2 linked regions of the Homo sapiens genome follow. The protein of the gene in region 2 interacts with the protein of the main gene of each other region in a pairwise test. Each region holds a gene or a part of one and is shown on either strand. Other genes may lie near its edges.

Region 1 (3,823 bases), about 130 Mb from region 2:
CAAGGTGAAGACACAGATCAGTGGGAAATGTGTGTGTGTGCATGTGTGTGTGCATGTGTATACATGGTGTGCGTGTGTATACATGTGTTCATGCATGTATGTGCATGTATATACTGTGCATGTGTGATAAAGGCGGACTGGGGGCAGTGGGGCCAGATTAGATAAAGGATCCAAAAAGACAGAAGAAGTCAGGGCTGATGTGGGTGGTGGGCGTTGTTTAAGGGTCTTCATCAGCACAGCAAACTGATGAAAATAGCACTTGAGGAAGCTCCCACTAGCAGTGGGATCAGTTCAGTGACAGATGCAGGAGAGGCTGTCCAAGGGAAGAGGGTGAGCCTGTTTCAGGAGGCTCAAGGTCCCCTGAATGTCTGTAAATGGACATGGTCCCACTTTCTGAGAATCTAATAGGACCCACAGCCCCCAGAACAGCTGCCACTGTCCTGGCACCTGTGAACATGCCTTTCACTGTCAATTTCAATTTATATCCTACTTTATCTTAATTTCCCCTAAGTAGGTTCAACTTGAAGACCTGTGCTACTGATGCCCTGTGAGGGGGCCTTGCCCCATGCTGTGTCGTGTCTGGAGGGGCATAGATAATGTCATGGAGGGCGCTGGGTCTGGGATGGGGACATCCGTTCTCAGAGGAGATGGCTCAGAACCGAAACCACCCTCTGAGTAGGCAGTTCCCCTCTGGCTCAGCCCAGAGTGTTGTCCCACCCAGCCTTGCCTGTCCTGGGACCACCCCTGCTATCCCAGCCTCTCCCCTTTGCTCACAAACCTAGAAGCATCTGTCTGGATTCCTAAGCAAGACCAAATAATTAAACAGCCCAAGAGTTCGGCAGATTGGTCTCCCCTTTGGGAAAATACAAGAAAATCAACAATTAACACTAATTAATCTCCTATTAACACTAGATAATTAGGAGACAAGCAATTCCCTGTAATCTGACGGCAGCTCTGACAGCTAATGATTTCCCTGGCAGGCAGGGGCGGGAGGAGGGCCCGGCGCAGCGAAAGGGTTTCCTGGGTCCCCACAGCCCTGCTCCACCTCTCAGCCTGTCTCTGGGACCAAAGGGGCTGGCAGAGCAAAGTACCCCATTTGTCCCTTTCCATGATCTGCAGCCCTGCCAGCTGAGGGGTTTCTGTCCTCCCTGCACAGAAGCCTCCACCGCCCATCTGTGATGAAATGCCAGCCCCAGCTGGTTCTCTAGGAGCCACCACTTTAGACTTGGTGCTCAGGGGACCTGGATCCAGGATGTGACTTTGATGCTTGTTCGTATGGGTGTAGGCAAGTCACTGCATGTGATACAGCCTCTCCCTAACAGGATGGAAAGCTGTAGGAGAGCACTGGGGAACAGTCGGAGCAAGCACAGCCTTGACTACACACCAGGCACTGCTCTAAGCTGTATTTCCTGTTACAGGAGTTCCTCAGTCCTCCCAGCAACTTCTGAGTTCAGTGGTGACTAGGAGTGTAGGCTCTGGAGCCAGACACACTACCTGTGTGGCCTTCGGCAAGTCGCTGAATCTCCCTAGGCCTCAGTTTTGTCATCTGTAACATAGGGATATGATACTATGCCTTCTTCATAGGGTTACTGTGAGAAGAGTTAATACACATCAAGCCTAGTGCTTAACACTTGTTAGCTAGTGTTGTTCTTGTTATGTAATGTATGAGAAAGCACTTGGTAAGCTGCTTGGCATCATCCCAATGAGGGTATCATTGGACATGGGAGTGAAGCAGGTTGATGTAGCTGCATGGGCTTCCTGGAGGAGGCAGGACTGGGATGGGCAGTTTTGAAGGGAAGGAGGAGGAAGAGGCAGGCATTCCAGACACAGCGAGCTACTTGAGCCCAGTGCAGAGGTGGGGATCAACATGGGCCAGGAAGGACAGAGACGGGCCTGAGGGGCAGGTGGAGAGGAGAGTTGGAGAGAACCAGCCTGCTCTTCCCTAGCTTGGAGGAGGAGTGAGGAAAAGAGGCCTCCCGGGACAGACTGATGAGCACTGCTCAGATGCAGGGCTAGAAGCAGAGGCCCCAGGTGTGTAAAATGCTTTCTCCAGGGACCCCTGGAAGGCCAGGCCTTCTGCTCCCACTGCTCATTGGTACTCTCGTCTGACAGACAGAAGGGTCTCCTCTCCTTGCAGACAGAGTCTGTTAAACCCCCACCGCTAGATGCAATTGTGTTTGGCCACATGTGGGTTGTGTGTGAGATGCTGCCTGAAAGACAATACTTAGCTGTTTTCAGATCTCAAAAGGCTCTGTGGCCATCGCCTGCATAGATGCAGCGAGAGTGGAGTGCAGTGGAGGAGGCACAAATCTGCTTTAGGTACTGAGTTCAGGCACAAGCGGGTGTCTTAGTGCCAGTGTCTGTCAGGCCACTTTTCTGACCACGTGGACGGTCTGTCCACAGGCTGCTCCACTGCGTGGCTTGCCCGCTTGCTGCACTGGACCACCACCTCAGAGACCTTTCTTGGCCACTCCGTCTAGGACAGTGCCCTCCCCAACCATGCTCAGTCCCCTGACCCTACTTTTTTTTTTCTCTTTTGAGACAGGGTCTCATTCTGTCGCCCACACGTGCCGTGGCACGATCCCGGCTCACTGCAACCTCTGCCTCCCAGGCTCAAGAGATTCTCTTGCCTTAGCCTCCCAAATAGCTGGGATTAAAGGTGCATGCCACTACCGCCCGGCTAATTTTTGTATTTTTAGTAGAGACAGGGTTTCACCATGTTGGCCAGGCTGGTCTCAAACTGCTGACCTCAAGTGATCCACCCACCTCGGCCTCCCAAAGCGCTGGGATTACAGGCATGAGCCGCCACGCCCGGCTCCTTCTTATTTTTCATTGCAGCAGCAGATCTGTGAGTGATGACTTCTGTGTTTATTATGTTTTCCCTCTGAAATAGAAGCTCTTGGATGACGAGGACTTTATTTTCCCCACTGCTGGATTCGAAGTGCTTGGCACATAGTAGGCCCTCAATAAATAGTTGCTGAATGAACCAATGAAAGCATATATCTGGCTCCAACTAGGTTCCACCCCTGCTCCTACCAAATCCTCTCCTGCTCCTGCAGGCAGTCCATCAGCCTCAGGTTGCCTTGTCCCTTCTCCCTGAATACCCTCCAGGCTCTGGGGTTCCCTTGCCTCCAGAGCCCAGTCCTCCCTCTGTGAGTCCCCCACCCAGCCCCACCCCACTCCCTGGCCCCCTCTTGTAGCTGTCTCTACCCTCACTTGGCATTGGATGGATTCTGTGATCTTTTTATCTGCTCAGGAGCTCCAGCCACAGGTCAGGGACCCCTTCCAGCCAGCAGAAAACCCAGCCCAGAACCTTGTAGAGGCAGAGAGGAGAGCAGGATGGTGGTGTGGTTAAGGGCAAGGGGTCACGCTTCCAGGCCTGGACTGTGGGAACCACAACTTGGGCAAGTTAATTAACTTCTCTGTACCTCAGTTTCCCTTGGCTGTAATGAAGGAAATGGGATAATAACATGGGATATTAACAGTCCATCCCTTGCAGGGACAACAGTGAAGAGTTCATACATGTCAAGTGCTAGAAATCATCTGGCCTGAGTTATGCACAATAGAAAGGTTAGCTGCTGTATTGGCTTCCTGGATCAAATGAAGTACCACAAAGTGGGTAGCTTAAAGCAACAGAAATGGAGTTCCCTTACAGCAGTGGAGGCTGGAAGTTTGAAATGCATATGTGGGCAGGGCTGGCTCCTTCTGGAGCTTCTGAGGGAGAATCTGTTCCATGGTGCTCTTGTAGCTTCCAGTGGTTTCCCACAATCCTTGGTGTCCTTTGACTTGTACATGTGTCACTCCACTCCACTGTCTGCCTTTG
Region 2 (3,823 bases):
CCACAGCCCTAAGAAACCCCTAATCTACTTTCTGTCTCTATAGATTTGCTTATGCTGGACATTTCATATAAATGGAATCATACAATATGTAGGCTTTTGTGACTAGATTTTTTCACTCAGCATAACCTTTTTAAGGTTCATCCTTATAGTGCCATGTATTATTATTTAATTCATTTTTTATGGTCAAATATTATTCCATTGTATGAATATACCATATTTTATTTATCTGTTCATCAGTTAATGATATTTGGGTTGTTTCCACTTTTTGTCTTTTATGAATAATGATGCTATGAACATACATATACAAGTTTTTCAGTGGTATATATTTTCATTTATCTTGGGTATATACCTAGGAGTGGAACTGCTGATCAAATGGTCACTCTGTATTTAGCTTTTTGAGGAGCTGCCGGGTTATTTTCTAAAGTAGATGCATCATTTTATATACTCACCAGCAACATTTTTGTTTTTTGTTTTTTTTTGCCTGATTTAAAATCTTAACATTGAAAAACATCTCTTGTTAGTTTAATGCCACATCTTAACAGGAACTCTTGCTCTCTGTAATAATCCTGAAAGATTCTCTTTCCAACTTTGGTTGAACACATGCAATATCTATACATCACATTTTGCATTAAGTAAAAGTTATTCTAAAACAGCAAGTGAGACGAGGCCTCTGCTGAATTTTCCCTCTTCTGTTGCAAATATCATTCAATGATGGAGCATTAGCAGTGGGGAAAATTTCTATTCTCTGCTCCTGCTCAATTTAGTTCCACAAACAGTAAAGGAACATCTGCTGCATAACTTACTCCACAAAGCAGTGGGAATACAAACATAGAGCAATATAATCCCTATTCTCAACAAATTGTCCATAGCTCTGTAGAAAAGCCATATTGCATTATAATGATTTTTTATTTACTCTGTTATAATCACAATAGGTCAAAGCTGTTACACAGTTTAAATGCACTTCATGGCTTCTGCTCATTACTCTAATTCTAGCCCTATCTCTATCTCTGGCTATATTTTCTTGTCTTTTGAGATTTTATTCATTTATCTAACATATATTTATTAAATATTTACTATCCGCCAATCACTGGACTAGGTACTCAGCAATTCTGATTCAAAGGAAATTGGATTTTTTTTGGATCATTCTATGTGTGTGTATTTTTTTCTCCCTGAACCTTCTTCTACCTTTTTCTAATTAATCTTCCTTTTCTCCTTACTGCCTTCTCTACTTAACTAGTGCTGCCCTGTGCTCTAAGGGGCTCCATATGCCACTCTTTATACTGTATCCAGACTTCTCCCACTCACCCCTACCTTTAATCTTCATTCATTCTGAGCCTCATTCTCTCCATTATCTCCCATGTAGCAATAGATGGTAAAAGACTTTGCCAAATATAAACCAATTCTCAATAATGGTGTTCTCAGCTAATATCAGTCATCTTCTGTGTTAAATTAGTTTCTTATCAATTGAAATAATAGAACCTTTAAGTTGTTTAAAATAGGGCATACAAATGTAATATATTTTTTCAAAACATTCAACAAGAGTTTTAAATAAATATTTAGAAGTGAGCACACAGAATGTTGATGCCTTGACGTATAGTTATCACAGTGCTGCTTAATGCAGACATGGAAAATCTTTAAGGGCAATAACTAGTTTAGTCTTTGTCACTTTAGGGCTACTGAGCTCATTGTTTTACAACAGTTATGCTTATACAGAGAGATAGAGTTATGTTTAGGAAAATATTTCAACTTTTTCATTCCTTTCTTTTGCAAAAATATGTTGACTTTCTGTATATATAGATTGTGTGTTTGTTAAACTGAAGTAGAGTTAATTAGCTTAGGTAAACATTGATGAGCACTTGGCTGGCACTCAATACATCTGTTAAGAAATGAATGTACTTGGGAAGCAAGTCAGTGTTTTAGAATTTGAAATTATATAATATATATTTATAATTATAGCATATATTTATATATAATTTATTATAATATAACACAAATGTATACTATGATATATATTATATATAATATATAGTATATATAATATATAATTTGTATGTTATAATTATATATATTTTATATATATATCAGAGGTAGGAACAGAATTATTTGTTCCCACTTGGTTATTCAAAACTAGCAGTATTACTCCAAGGCACTTGACTACTATTTGCAGTGGTAATATGAATGGAGCAAACAAATGGTCAAGTACTTTGTGGTAATACTGCTGATTTTGAATAGCTATATGGGGACAAATAATTCTGTTCCTACTTCTGTTACTTAGAGATATAGAAACTAACTTTGAGAATATTTTCTTGGCCGGGCGCGGTGGCTCACGCCTGTAATCCCAGCACTTTGGGAGGCCGAGGCGGGCGGATCACAAGGTCAGGAGATCGAGACCATCCTGGCTAACACGGTGAAACCCCGTCTCTACTAAAACTACAAAAAATTAGCCGGGCATGGTGGCGGGCGCCTGTAGTCCCAGCTACTTGGGAGGCTGAGGCAGGAGAATGGCGTGAACCCGGGAGGCAGAGCTTGCAGTGAGCCAAGATCGTGCCACTACACTCCAGCCTGGGTGACAGAGCAAGACTCCGTCTCAAAAAAAAAAAAAAAGAGAGAATTTTTTTTAATAAAATGTTTCTTTACAGATGAATATATATTTGTTTCTTGGGCCAAGTAAAACAGTAAGTACAAAAAGAAATGTTTCTAAACATGTAGCCACCGGCAATCCTTGATTATGTCTAAAACCACTGTCTTCCAGAGTCAATATAGCAAAGACTTAGTTACCCCGAATTCTCAGAGTTTGGGGTATAGTATAATTTTCTGGGAAGGCTTATATAAAATTATTCCAATTTTTTTTTTTTTGGAGGACTGGGAAATAGAGGACTGGGAATTTGAGCAAATTTTGAGGAATCTTAAATTGCTATTAGGACACCAATATGACGCAGCAATCAATCATTATTTTCTAGGACTCTGGTTACCAAAGTTATAGACAGCGAGCCAATTCTCCATTATTTTGGCAAAAGATAATGCAAATTTATGTTATTGTTTGCTAGTTGATTTGATTCACTGCCTAAAATAAACTGATTCCTTCTGTTTTAAAAAATCCATTTTGAAGTCACACACAACAAAAATCATTCAGTTAGTTGAATTTGCTTTATAATTAGACTATGAGTGAAGACACCAGATATTTTAAAAAGCAATCCAAATGACTGAGTTTAGAAAATAAAATGAGATTACAGCACCTCTTGAGAGTGTCTGAGGAGGCCTCTTTTCCTTTTTTATTGCAATGGCAAGGTTGGAAGAAACTGTGACGAGTAAGAGGCAGAGACCCAAAGCTGAGTGTAGCATCATGTCTTCTAGAGACTCTCTCAGAAGAAGCTAGATGACAGAAAGGAATTCTCAGAATCCAGTGAATTACTTCAAGCTATTATTAGAAGATATTTGCTAAGAGTTGGACCAATACTGTGATGACAGACTGTTCAGCTTTTTTGGTTTGACATGGTATAACCAACCACATAGAACTTTCATTCACATTTTATTTTTAAAATACTTAATCAACTCAGTACATGCTCAGTTGGTGAGAAGTCATGTTCTGAGCCTCCTGGGCATGGTGCTGTATAATTAAAAAAGAGCTGGATCAGGGCACACGAAGCCTGCTTCTGAACCGCCCTGTAGTGTTCACACCAACAAGACGAAACTCAAATAAGATCATGTTGTTTGATGTCTTGTAAACTATGAAGTGACTTTTAGCATGCAGAAATATTCTTTGCCTTTTGATTCTCCTTCATCTAATAGGTCAAAATATTTTAACTCTATACTAAGATAAGAT

Evidence for each region.
Region 1: the proteins of AGR3 (region 2) and ASB10 interact in a two-hybrid assay, tested with the Homo sapiens proteins (one large-scale study listed by BioGRID and IntAct).

Annotation. Positions count from the first base shown.
Region 1 is NC_000007.14:151,176,960-151,180,782, reverse strand, and holds part of ASB10 (ankyrin repeat and SOCS box protein 10), read left to right. Parts: intron 1-3,823. UniProt on the Homo sapiens protein: May be a substrate-recognition component of a SCF-like ECS (Elongin-Cullin-SOCS-box protein) E3 ubiquitin-protein ligase complex which mediates the ubiquitination and subsequent proteasomal degradation of target proteins.
Region 2 is NC_000007.14:16,875,274-16,879,096, forward strand, and holds part of AGR3 (anterior gradient protein 3 precursor), read right to left. Parts: intron 3,373-3,823; 5' UTR 3,346-3,372; coding exon 3,237-3,345; intron 1-3,236. UniProt on the Homo sapiens protein: Required for calcium-mediated regulation of ciliary beat frequency and mucociliary clearance in the airway. Might be involved in the regulation of intracellular calcium in tracheal epithelial cells.